2 separate regions of the Homo sapiens genome follow, and region 1 is linked to region 2. The links come from fine-mapping of genetic effects on gene expression. A gene starts in region 2. The other region holds a variant in brackets. All regions are shown on one strand. Distances are between the middles of the regions. Region 1 overlaps MIR34AHG (MIR34A host gene). Region 2 holds the start of MIR34AHG (MIR34A host gene).

Region 1 (5,365 bases), 19 kb after region 2:
TGGGAGGCTGAGGCTGGAGAAACACTTGAGCCCAGAGGTTTGAGACCAGCTTGAGCAACATAGTAAGACCCTGTCTCTAAAAGAATTGTTTTAAACATTAGCCGGGTTGCCAGGTGCAGTGGCTGACGTCTGTAATCCCAGCACTCTGGGAGGCCGAGATGGGCAGATCACCTGAGGTTAGGAGTTCGAGACTAGCCTGGTCAACATAGTGAAACCCCGTCTCTACTAAAAATACAAAAATTTAGCCAGGTGTGGTGGCGCACACCTGTAATCCCAGCTACTTGGGAGGCTGAGGCAGGAGAATTGCTTGAATCCGGGAGGCAGAGGTTGCAGTGAGCCGAGATCACACCACGGCACTCCAGCCTGAAGGACAGGGTGAGACTCCGTCTCAAAAAAAAAAAAAAAAAAGATTAGCTAGGCGTGGTATGGTGGTGCACACCTGTGGTCCCAGCTACTAGAGGAGCTGAGGGGGTAAGATGGATGGCTGGAGCCGGGGAGGTTGAGGCTCTGGTGAGCTATGATCATGCCACTGTGCTGCAGCTCAGCGGGTGACAAAGCCAGACCCTGTCTCTGAAAAAAAAAAAAAAAAAAAGTCAAGCAATTCATATGTAGATGCAGTTAATGAGCTGGGCCTATTTCTGTCCTGCTTCTTCCCTAAGTCCCCAAACACCTCCCATATCAGCCTTGGGCATGTGTCCTTCCGGTTCACCCACTTCTTGGAGATGCTTTCTGTTGACTATTTGCTGAACTCTGTGGCCGCCCAGAAAATACTCCAGGGAGTGTGATGTGCGTCTATTTCCGGAGCCTCATTTCAGCAGGACTGGTGCCTGGTCAGGGTCTAGACCCTCCACCTCAGGGCCTGCCGTGGAGCAGCCAGAACCCTGGCTTCCCCCAGGTCCCCTAGACAGGCTGCTGTCACCTCTGCCCAGCTCTGGACTCTGGGGTCTCCCCAGATGAATGCACGGCTCCCTCTCCCCCAGGCCCTCATCGGGGACAGGTGGCCTCTGCATGTTCCACTGGTCTGGCAGGTCAAGAACTCAGATTGTTTTAACAGTGGGTGAGGCTTTTATGTATTCAGGTGAGACAACGAATGTGAAAGCTCATTGTCACCTGTAAAGCACCTACCAGTCTGCTGTGACGATGACGGGATGATGAGAACTGTCATCGCTCCTTCTCATTCCTGTGGCTTTACTGTGGGACCTTGAGAGCCAGAGCAGCAGGGGGGAGGTTCTGAGGGTCTAGAAGCCTCGGCAAGGGGCTGTTGCAGCCAGGGGCAGTCAGGCAGGGTCACCCATGCAGGGGCAGCCAAGTGGCTTGCCCAAGCTGGGGTCTATGCCTAGAGGACCCTCCAAAGATGCTGACCCCCTGAAGCCTGGCATCACCCAGGGAGGAGCTGTCACCACCATGGCCCTCTGGGCTACTAAAAACAACCTTTTGCCCAGGACTTGCAAGGAAGAGAGAGAGAGTTCTCGGTGGATGAGAACAGTTTTTCAGTGGCAGTGCTACAGACATTTGGGGCCAGATGATTTTTTGTGGTGGGGGCTGCCCTGTGCACTGTAGGATGTTTAGCGGCATTCCTGGCTTCTACCCACTAGAAGCCAGGAGCACTCCCTACCCTTCAATTGTGATAATCAAAAACGTCTGGGTTTTTTTCTTCTTTTTTTTTTTGAGACAGAGTCTTGCTCTGTCACCCAGGCTGGAGTGCAGTGATGCGATCTTGGCTCACTGCAACCTCCACCTCCCAGTCTCAAGTGATTCTCCTGCTTCAGCCTCCCAAGTAGTTGGGATTACAGGTGTGTGCCACCATGCCCAGTTAAGTTTTGCATTTTTAGTGGAGATAGGGTCTTGTCATGTTGGCCAGGCTGGTCTCGAACTCCTGACCTCAAGTGATCTGCCCGCCTCGGCCTCCCAAAGTGCTGGGATTACAGGCATGAGCCACCACACCCGGCCCCAAAAATGTCTTTAGATATTGCCAAATGTCCCCTGGGTGACAAAATCATCCCCCAAACTGCTGGATTAGAGGCTTTGGAAATGGATTTTCTGTGACCACTGCTTCACCATTGTAAGCTGCCTCTCATTTGGGTGCAGTTTTCTTTGTTCCTTTTCCAAAAAGCTGACCTCATCGGGCCCATTTGTTTGTTTCGTTGACTCACCCAGTCTAACCGCAAGCAGCCTTCCTCCTCTGGGGGATCCCAAATGACTTATCATGGGACTTTGTATGTAAATTTCAAAGATTATTTTCT[A/G]CTAAATCAGAGGCAGAAATCCTCAACTTCTTTTTTAGCAGCCTTGGTAAATACTTCCTTAGAGTGTTTAAGGGGCGTGCCGCACTCCTGCTGGTGGTCTGATTGTGAACACCTTTGCTGTTCAGTTCCCTGAAATCGCCAAATATTTCCCTCTCCTTTGGGTCTCAGCCCAGTGACTAGCGGATGATCTAAGGGCCAGGGCGGTCTGAGTTGGCTAGTGCACCGGGGATTTTCTTAAGGCCTTTGACCCGGGGACTGGTGTGGGAGGAAGGCAAAGGCCTGGTTGTTTATGAGCAAGGAGGAGTCAGGTCCGAGGATGGAGCCCTTCGGGGTCACTGCCCTGGGCCCTGCCCCTCTCCTGCACATCAGGCCCCTTGGACAAGGCCCGTGTGTTTGCAGGACCCTCTTGGGGCAGCAGAGCAAGGGCTGGCTTTGAGAGAGAGCCTCACTTTTTTGTTTTTTTTTTTTTTTTTTTTTTTAAGTAGAGACGGGGTTTCTCCATGTTGGTCAGGCCAGTCTTGAACTCCTCACCTCAGGTGATCTGCCCTCCTCGGCCTCCCAAAGTGCTGGGATTACAGGCGTGAGCGACCGCGCTCGGCCAGGGCTTCACTTTCAAGCTCAGTGCTGCTCTGAGGGGTGGACACAGCCCTGATGTCAGTAGCTGAAGACCTGCCTGGCCACACTCAGCAGCAGTTAGCCTTCTCCTCCCGCGCCCCGTGAACAAGGCTGTACCCTGGGAGGTTGGGCTCTGTCTGAATTCCATCACAGGTCCTCTCCTGGGCCTTGCCCTGCTTTGTTGCCTCCTTAGGAGGATGTCTTCTGGTTTCCTAGGAAGGGCTTTATATCTTAACATCCACCCTGCATTCAAAACCCAAGTTATCAAGACCACAGGGCACCACAACCCTCCTCTTGGCCTTGCGGTTTCTATTCTTCAGTGACTCCCAGAGGTTTGGCTTGATTGGCAGCTTAGAAGCACATGATTGAACTTGAGCAGTGGTTGAAACTCAGAGTCAGATGCCTGACCCGCCCCAATCCCAGGCACAGAGTCTGACCTCACACCCAGGCTGTGCTGTGTACTCAGTTGTTCAGTATCGACTTGAGCTTGACGGGCATCAGGGGCCAGGGAGTGAAAGGGAAGAGAAGCCAAATCTGGCTGCTAAGGGCTCTCAGTCCTGGAGGGCAGGAAAATAGTGGCCTTGCCGCTAGACCTGATGCCACCTGCCCCTCCAGCTGTACCCCCTCAACACCTTGGGTAATACCTCAAGCCCCACGTCCTCTTCCAAGCCAGATAGGACCCCAAGTGCTGGGTGATCCTTATTGAAGGGTAGGGACAGGAGGGACCCGTGGGATTGTGTGTGCTCAGAGCGGAGTTCAGGGGCACCTGAGGGCAAACTGTCTCTTTGCTCCCAGGGCTGTCCTCCGTGCCTTTACCTGTGCTGGGCCCTGGCAGAGCTCTGAGTCTTCTGGATTCCAGCGTCCATAGTAGCTAGTCTGTCCACTGCTGGAGAAAAGCTGCTTTCCCAAAATAGCCACCCAGGGGGAAAGAGCAGCCCTGGAATTTGACCCTGACGATCACCGTGACGGGGCTGCTGGCCCCACCTGGCCTGACCTCCACGACATCACGGAAGGACTGTTGGTTAGTTGTGGGGGCCAGGATTTTTCCTCTGTCCCCCTCCCCTCTTCTTCTTCCCTTTCTTCTTTCTCTCTGCCAGCTTCAGGTTTGAAATTCCAGTGACACCGAGGGAGATGCTCCAGTGCCTGTCCGGCTGGGGGGCAGGTCACATGGTGGGAGCAGAGAGGGGAGGGCACTTGTGCGCCTGCACCTCTTGGCAGGTGAATGCACACCTATGGAGGGGCCTGGGTGCTGGCAGCGAGCCCCGCTCCCTGCGGCTGTGCCAGGCCCAGAGGCGGCAGCGAGCCCAACAGGTCAGACAGGTGGAGCCAGGCTGGGGAAGCTGCAGGACCAGAGCTGACATCCGATCAATCCAAGGTCCTTCTTTGGCCCACAGAGCAGGTAACCCACCCTTTTCTTTCTTTTTTTTTTTTCTTTCTTTCTTTTTTTTTCTGGTTTAATTCACTGACAACTTTAGGGAACATTTACAACCCGAGAAAAAGGCCATTGAGATTGGGGGGCAATCGCGAATTGTTTGGAGAGGGATTTGTGGTGTTTTGTGTGGAGGAAATTTGGCCTCGGCATTAGAAAAGCATTTCTAATTTTCAGGTCTTTGATTCTGAAAGCAGATTTCTTATGGAGCCTGGGTGCTGGGTGGCATATTGGGGAGGCAAAGCCCAGAAGCCATGAGGGTTTTCCTGTGACTGCTGATGGAACACCGTGGGAGGCTGTAGTTTGGTGGCCTGTTTGCCTCCATAAGGAGGGGTTGGGGCAGAGACAGGGTGGTCGGGGGACTGCTCCGCGACAGGACTTGGCTGTATGGGGGAAGCTCTCCCAGTTCCTATCAGAGAAACACGTGGAGGGCTGGACTCCCTCCAAAATTCAAATTTATGCTACAGGCCCTTACTGGGGCTGGATTTTACTTGGAGATTGTTTGGAGTTTTGAAATCACCTCTCCTGGTAAGAAGACTCGGTCTCCTGTGTTCTTGCCCCCTCTGTATCTTGGCCAGTGATGGTTCCCTTAGACAAATTGATGGGGGATTTCTGGCCTGAGGACAGGAAGAAAAGGAGCCCAGGTCTGTTTCAGTGAAGAACAAGCCCAGGACACCCCACCTGAAACTAGGACTAGTTTTGCCCAGTTTGGCATCGTTGAAAACGCATTTGCCCTCTTCCTTGAACCAGGCTGTGCCTTCTTCTATCTGTTTCCCTGCCATGGAACATCACCCAAACATTTTACTGGGAAGGGGAGGGGTAAGAGCAGATACAATGCTTGTCTGAAACCCCCGTTGCATGGCATTCTTTGCAGGGACAGGACAGGGGAGCAGTTTTTGCTGTTACCGAACCCTTTGTGACAGAGATGCTGTTTGTTAAGTGATTTGCTTTTTTACAAAAAAAATTCCAAGGTAATTGATGATGACACAGTTGCTTAGACTATGGAATATACCAGTTAGGATTCCTTCAGCTGCAAGTAAGAGAAAACCTTACTTAAAATGACTTAATCAGAACAGTA
Region 2 (5,365 bases):
AAGGAAAGCAAGAAAAAAAGAGCCCACAAGGGTGGGGACCTCCAAGGAGAATGCTCCCAGGTCTGTCTGCAAGGAACAGAGAACCAATGAGCACCAATGTTCCCTCAATGCCTGGAACAAAACAGGTGCTTCATAGAGATGTTTTAGAAGAGCGACTGCATGCATGAGAGGGCCTACTGTGTGCAGCCACTCTGTCTTGCACAGTCCTTATCATCACCCTGGGGGTAGGGAGGTGTGCATTCATTTCATTCATTCATTCATTCATTCATTCCACAGTACTTATTGCATCCATACTAGGAGCCTGATGCTGTCGGTGTACACGAGGACACACGCTCAGCATGCGTAAGCAATTTGCGAAGTTGAGGCAGGATGGCAGGTACATGAGGAGTGAGGGCTTGGAGAACCGACAGGCGCCACCTTGGGTCGTGGGTCCACCCCGCTCTCCTCCCTGCGTTGGTTGTGGCCAACCCAGTCTTACCTTTCAGGTCCTAATTTCCTCACCTGTAAATGCAGCAGTCCTAGGACTTATCTCAAAGGGCTTTTTGAAGATTGAATGAGATTATTTGGGGGTGCAGGGAGAGGTTGGGAAGATGCTGGCACATTGCCCAGGCCATGTAGTGAGTCAAGGTTGGAACCCACTTTTGTCTGATCAGAAAAGCAGACCTCGGCCAGGTGTGGTGGTTCACACCTGTAATCCCAGCACTTTGGGAGACCGAGATGGGTGGATTACCTGAGGTCAGGAGTTTGACCTCAAGTCAGGAATTTGACCTGACTGGCCAACATGGTGAAACCCCGTCTCCACAAAAATTAGTTGGGCATAGTGGTGGGCACCTGTAATCCCAGCTACTCAGGAGGCTGAGGCAGGAGAATCACTTGAACCTGGGAGGTGGAGGTTGCAGTGAGCCAGGGTCAGGCCATTGCACTCCAGCCTGGGCAACAAAAGTGAAACTCCGTCTCAAAAAAAAAGAAAAAAGCAGACCTCTCCCTTGCCATGGGCTGCCTCTAGGACCCATCTGCCTCCTTTTATCCCTCTGAGTCTTTGAGGATCTGAGAAGCCCTTCACCTACTTGCCCTGTGGTGACAGGCACTCTGGACTGAGAGTGGGTATGGGATTGCCCCCCAGCAACAGGTGTAGGAAAAGTAGGCCTGACCTGCAGCCATCCACCTGCACCTGGGCGTTCTCACCTGCCAGCTGGCTCACGGCTTCTCTAGCACTGTTCTAGAATCACGGAGGAGTTTGGAAAACATGGGCTCATCACAGACACCTGTGAGAATAGGCTCACCGCCCCTCCCCTGTGAGAATGGGGGCAGGTCACCCCTGGCCTCCTCTCAGGCCCCCGAGGGTGCCCAAATGTGATTACGCACCTGGGTAGCATTCGCTTCCCTGTCCTCCTCCTAAAGAATCGTCTTCTCCCAGTGCCGGAGGAATGAGTCCCCCGTTCTCACCCCGGGGAGCGGTTGCCTCGTGAGTCCAAGGAGAATCCGCCCTTTCGTTTTGCGCAGGTGGAGATCTCGCGGGCCCAGTTCGGAGTCCTGCAAACTGTGAGTGTGCGAGGAGGGCTTGTTTCTGATGAAACCATTTCTGTCCCGTAACAACCCTGAGGGCAGAAACCCTTACAAAAGGAGCCACCGAGAGATTTGCTGTCCGCTTGATACTGGGGCACGGTGGTCCTGGGGGCAGCTTGTCCCGGAAGGGCGCGGGGCGCACTGGCTGGGATCTATAATGGTTGGGGCAGGAGGGTGGGTGGGGAGCCCCTTCTCCATGGCGGCGGGAGGTCTTCGGCGCTGCCCCTGCCCGCGCCTCCCTGCCCACCCCAAGGGCGCCCGACCGTGCGCGCAGGGCAGCGTGGAAAGGGTGGGAAATGCAGGGAGCGCGCCTTGGGGGCTGCCCCATGCTCCCCCCTGTAGCTCCGCGCTCAGGACCCGCGTCCGACTTTGCGTCTCTGGGAACCTTTAAGGCCGGTGAGGGGGGCTGAGCCGCGGCCCCTCGGCTGAGCCAAGCCCTGCCCCACGCAAGGTCCCCAGCCTGGCGCACCCGGCTCCCCAGCGCCGCGCGCCGGCCATGTCCCTTCCCACCCCAGCCCCCCGGGACCCGAGAGCCGTGCGGGGCCGAGCCTCGTGCCCCGAGGCACGCCGAGCCAAGTCACCCCTGCAGCCCGCGGCGCCGGAACTTGGGGGCGCAGTGAGTGGGGGCAGGGCGCCGGGCCGGCGGGCGGTGGCCGTGGCTGGGTGCCGGTTCCTGGCTTTAGAAGTCCTTTCGCATCTTGTTGAATCCGGGGCTGCATTGGCCCTCCGAGCTCTCCGGACTGGCAACGTCGCAGAGACAACAGGTCCTGACCCGGGACAGACCCCACACCCGCGTCCAGGACGTGGGTTTCTTCCCTCTTCCAGGCGAGAGGCCCTCGGACTGGGCGTCGCGGCGAGCCCCCCGTGGTTTCTGTTTGCTTTTGTACGGTCCCCCTTCCCCCCACCACCCTGTCCCGGCCCCACCCGGGCCTTGGTCCCACCGCGAAGGGGCGAGGAGTCCCCGGAAGGGTCGCGATGGCCGGGGAGTCCGGGACCTCGGCTCTGGGTAGGCGCGCCCCGCGACCCAGCGGCGGCGTGGGCGAGGGGCGCTGCGCAAACTACGCGCTCTCGCTGGGGAAACGCCAGCCCAGGCGGGCGGCGGCGGTGAAGGGGATGAGGACCAGGACCCCGTGCCCGGCGGGACTGGCCCCGCACCCCACGCCGCCCCCCTGCGGTGCGCACCGCATCTGCGCCCTAGGCCGAGGCCAGGCTCCGACCCCTCCCCCGCACCGACGTGATTCGGATCGCGCGGTGCTGGCGCCGCCTTCATGCGCCCTGCCTGGCCCCCACCTGGTCCTCTTTCCTTTTCAGGTGGAGGAGATGCCGCTGTCCCGTCGGTCTGGGGACAGCCCAGCTCCCCGGATCCCGGGCTGGAGAGACGCGTCGCGGCCCCGGGGCCTGGTGGCACGAGCAGGAAGGAGGACCCGGCGGCGGGCTCTGCCTGGGCTTGCCTGGGCTTGTTCCGAGCCGGGCTGCTTCTCGGTGACCACGCAGATCGGGGGCATTTGGAGATTTTGCGGGAGTCCTGCAGCCAAGCTCCGGGGCAGGAGAGGCCTGGAAGCCTGCACTACCTGCTCGCCCCGTCCCAGCATGCACCCAGGTAAACGCTTGTGTTTCTCAGTCCGTGCGAAAGTTTGCAAAGAAGGAGGCGGGAACTAGACCAACAACTTTAATAATCATAGTCATAATAATGAAAACCCTGTTCAATTGTGTAGCCTCCGTAAGGGGAAGAATTTCCAAGAAGCAACAAAATGTTCTTTGATTTCATAATCTCTGGGGAGAAAGGATTCCTTTTTTGGGGTTTTGCTCGGCTAGTTCTTTCTTCCCTCCTCTATCTCCAGCGTGGGGCGAGGAAGGCCGACTGGTTCATGGGTGGCAAATGGGGACCCTGGCTCTCTTGCGCTGCTGGCCACGGTGATATTGCAGCAAATGCTCAACCTCCCCAGTTCCTCTCCTCACCTTGAAAGTGGAGGCATTGATACTAGCCACCCATGGTTGCAAAAAACTCGCATGAAAGGGAAAGGAAAAGTGCTTCGGTCACTAAAGTAGCGTTGTCTAAGAGGTCAAGGCTTTGGAAGACTTTTGCTCTAGAAGAGGGGAACGGGAGAGGGGCTTTCAGCCAACCTGGCCCCGAGGTGAACGCGCGCGCCCCCTGCTGGCTGGAGCCCTGTCCAGCCTGTGAGCCGCCAGTGGGGAAGGAGACTGAGGGGAGGTGGTCCCTGGAGTTCCTTGCTCCTGGCCTGGAGCAGCAGGTGCCAGTGCTCCTGAGGCCCCCTCTCTCAGGTTACGTGGATGGGGCCTGTAGCACAGACAGGGCACATGCTTCAGCACCTCCCTGTTTCTGCGTCAGGTGGGGGACATGAGCTAGGCTCTGCAGAAGGTTCCAGAGCCTGGGCCTTCCTGTTGCATCCACACTAGGCTCCTGGAGCCCAGAGGTGGCTGGGATCTCTGCATACATGCATGTGAAACTCTAGCAGATACCAAGTCATGTTAAGGGGGCTAAACGGCCCACTGCAGTTATGTTAGCCAGTTCTGCCTCTGCCCAGTTCTGAGATATCTTTGGGACAAATGGCCACTCCTCTGAGCCCCTGTGTCTTCCTGCATGAGCCACAAATGCTGTGTAGTCATGGCTGAGGAAGAGGGAAGGTACCTGTGCTTGCAAACATTCCTCTTGAAGGACTATCCAGGAGCAGAGGGAGCAGCTGGGGGCAGCATCAGTTGGTACCTGAGCCCATTGGCACCTACTGCCACATGGGGTAGTGGCCTGTCTCCTGAGCTTCCCCAAGCTGGCCAAAACTGGCCAGGACTGCCCTGCTCTCCCCTCCCAATCCAGCTTTCTCTTGGGCCTCCAGGATCCCTTGGCTAGCTGGTGTGGTGGCCATGAGGACTGCACTTTTGCACCCCACCCCTGCCCTTGGCACACATCGCAAATCAATAATGCTAAACCTAGACAGGCCCCCAGGTCTTTCTGATCATAGCATCCATGCAGTGCTTCCCATTGATTGTGTCACCTAATTGCCAACCCAGCCCTACACCTGCCCTTGTAACTGGTCCCTGGGCCGGGGGGTGTAGGAGGATGCAAGGATGAACAAGATGCTGCCCTTGGTTATAGGATACACTACCTCCAGCTAGAGGTTATCAGATCTGTGCATAAGAAAATAACTAGGCGGGACTCATTCATTCATGCGACAAATATTTACAGAGTCCTTGCTATACGCAATGAGTCATTGAGGAGAAACCTACAGAAGGATGAGGGGGACGGCTTTTCAGGCAGAAGGGTTAGTAAGTGCAAAGGCCCTGTGTTTGGTGCATTGGAGAAATTGCAAGAAAGCGGGTGAGACTGAAGATCAACTCGTGATACTTGGTAATGAATATCACATGAAAACAAGGAAGTTTTCTTGTCTAGCTCTGAAATTTGCCTTGGTTGGCAGATCCTTCCTTCCCAGAGAGCACACATCAGTACTGCAGCTACAGCTGTCTGTCTGACATACTTGTAAGAACGAACTGTTTAGTGCAGGCTCTGGGAGGCAGTGCCATGCGGGTCACTGACATACATGGTGCCAATCATTTTTCTCCATTCGTAAGGCACCTCAGGACCCCACTGGGGCCCCAGTGTTCCAGTAAGGATACGGGTTTTGAGTTAAGGACCCGCCTTCCAGCTCCGTCTCTGTCACTAGCTGTGCTAATTTGGAAATAGGACTTCCTTTCCTGGCTTTGGTTCCTCATCTATAAAAATTGCCCTTATGTTAGGACCTACTTGGTAGACGCATGAGATAAAATAATTCGAGAATGTGCATAA

Evidence for each region.
Region 1: its variant is fine-mapped to the expression of MIR34AHG in monocytes after R848 (Quach 2016, PIP 0.95). The same link has a PIP of 0.9 or more in monocytes, monocytes after LPS and monocytes after Pam3CSK4.

The regions. Positions count from the first base shown.
Region 1 is chr1:9,160,899-9,166,263 of GRCh38, reverse strand. The region is part of intron 1 of MIR34AHG (MIR34A host gene); the gene reads left to right. Among named protein-coding and RNA genes, the nearest start is that of MIR34A, 12 kb to the right of the region's middle. RefSeq lists silencers at 1,450-1,499, 3,270-3,339, 3,490-3,559 and an enhancer at 2,010-2,339. The variant A/G (reference allele first, on the strand shown) is at 2,244.
Region 2 is chr1:9,179,808-9,185,172 of GRCh38, reverse strand. MIR34AHG (MIR34A host gene) reads left to right here and starts at 2,835. Exons shown (of 2, transcript NR_132742.1): 1 at 2,835-3,166. It overlaps LNCTAM34A (long non coding transcriptional activator of miR34a), which reads right to left and starts at 2,969. Exons shown (of 3, transcript NR_132738.1): 1 at 2,857-2,969; 2 at 1,366-1,540. RefSeq lists enhancers at 837-1,697, 2,898-3,247, 2,559-3,419, 3,358-3,507, 3,420-4,281 and silencers at 1,978-2,087, 2,098-2,187, 2,498-2,857.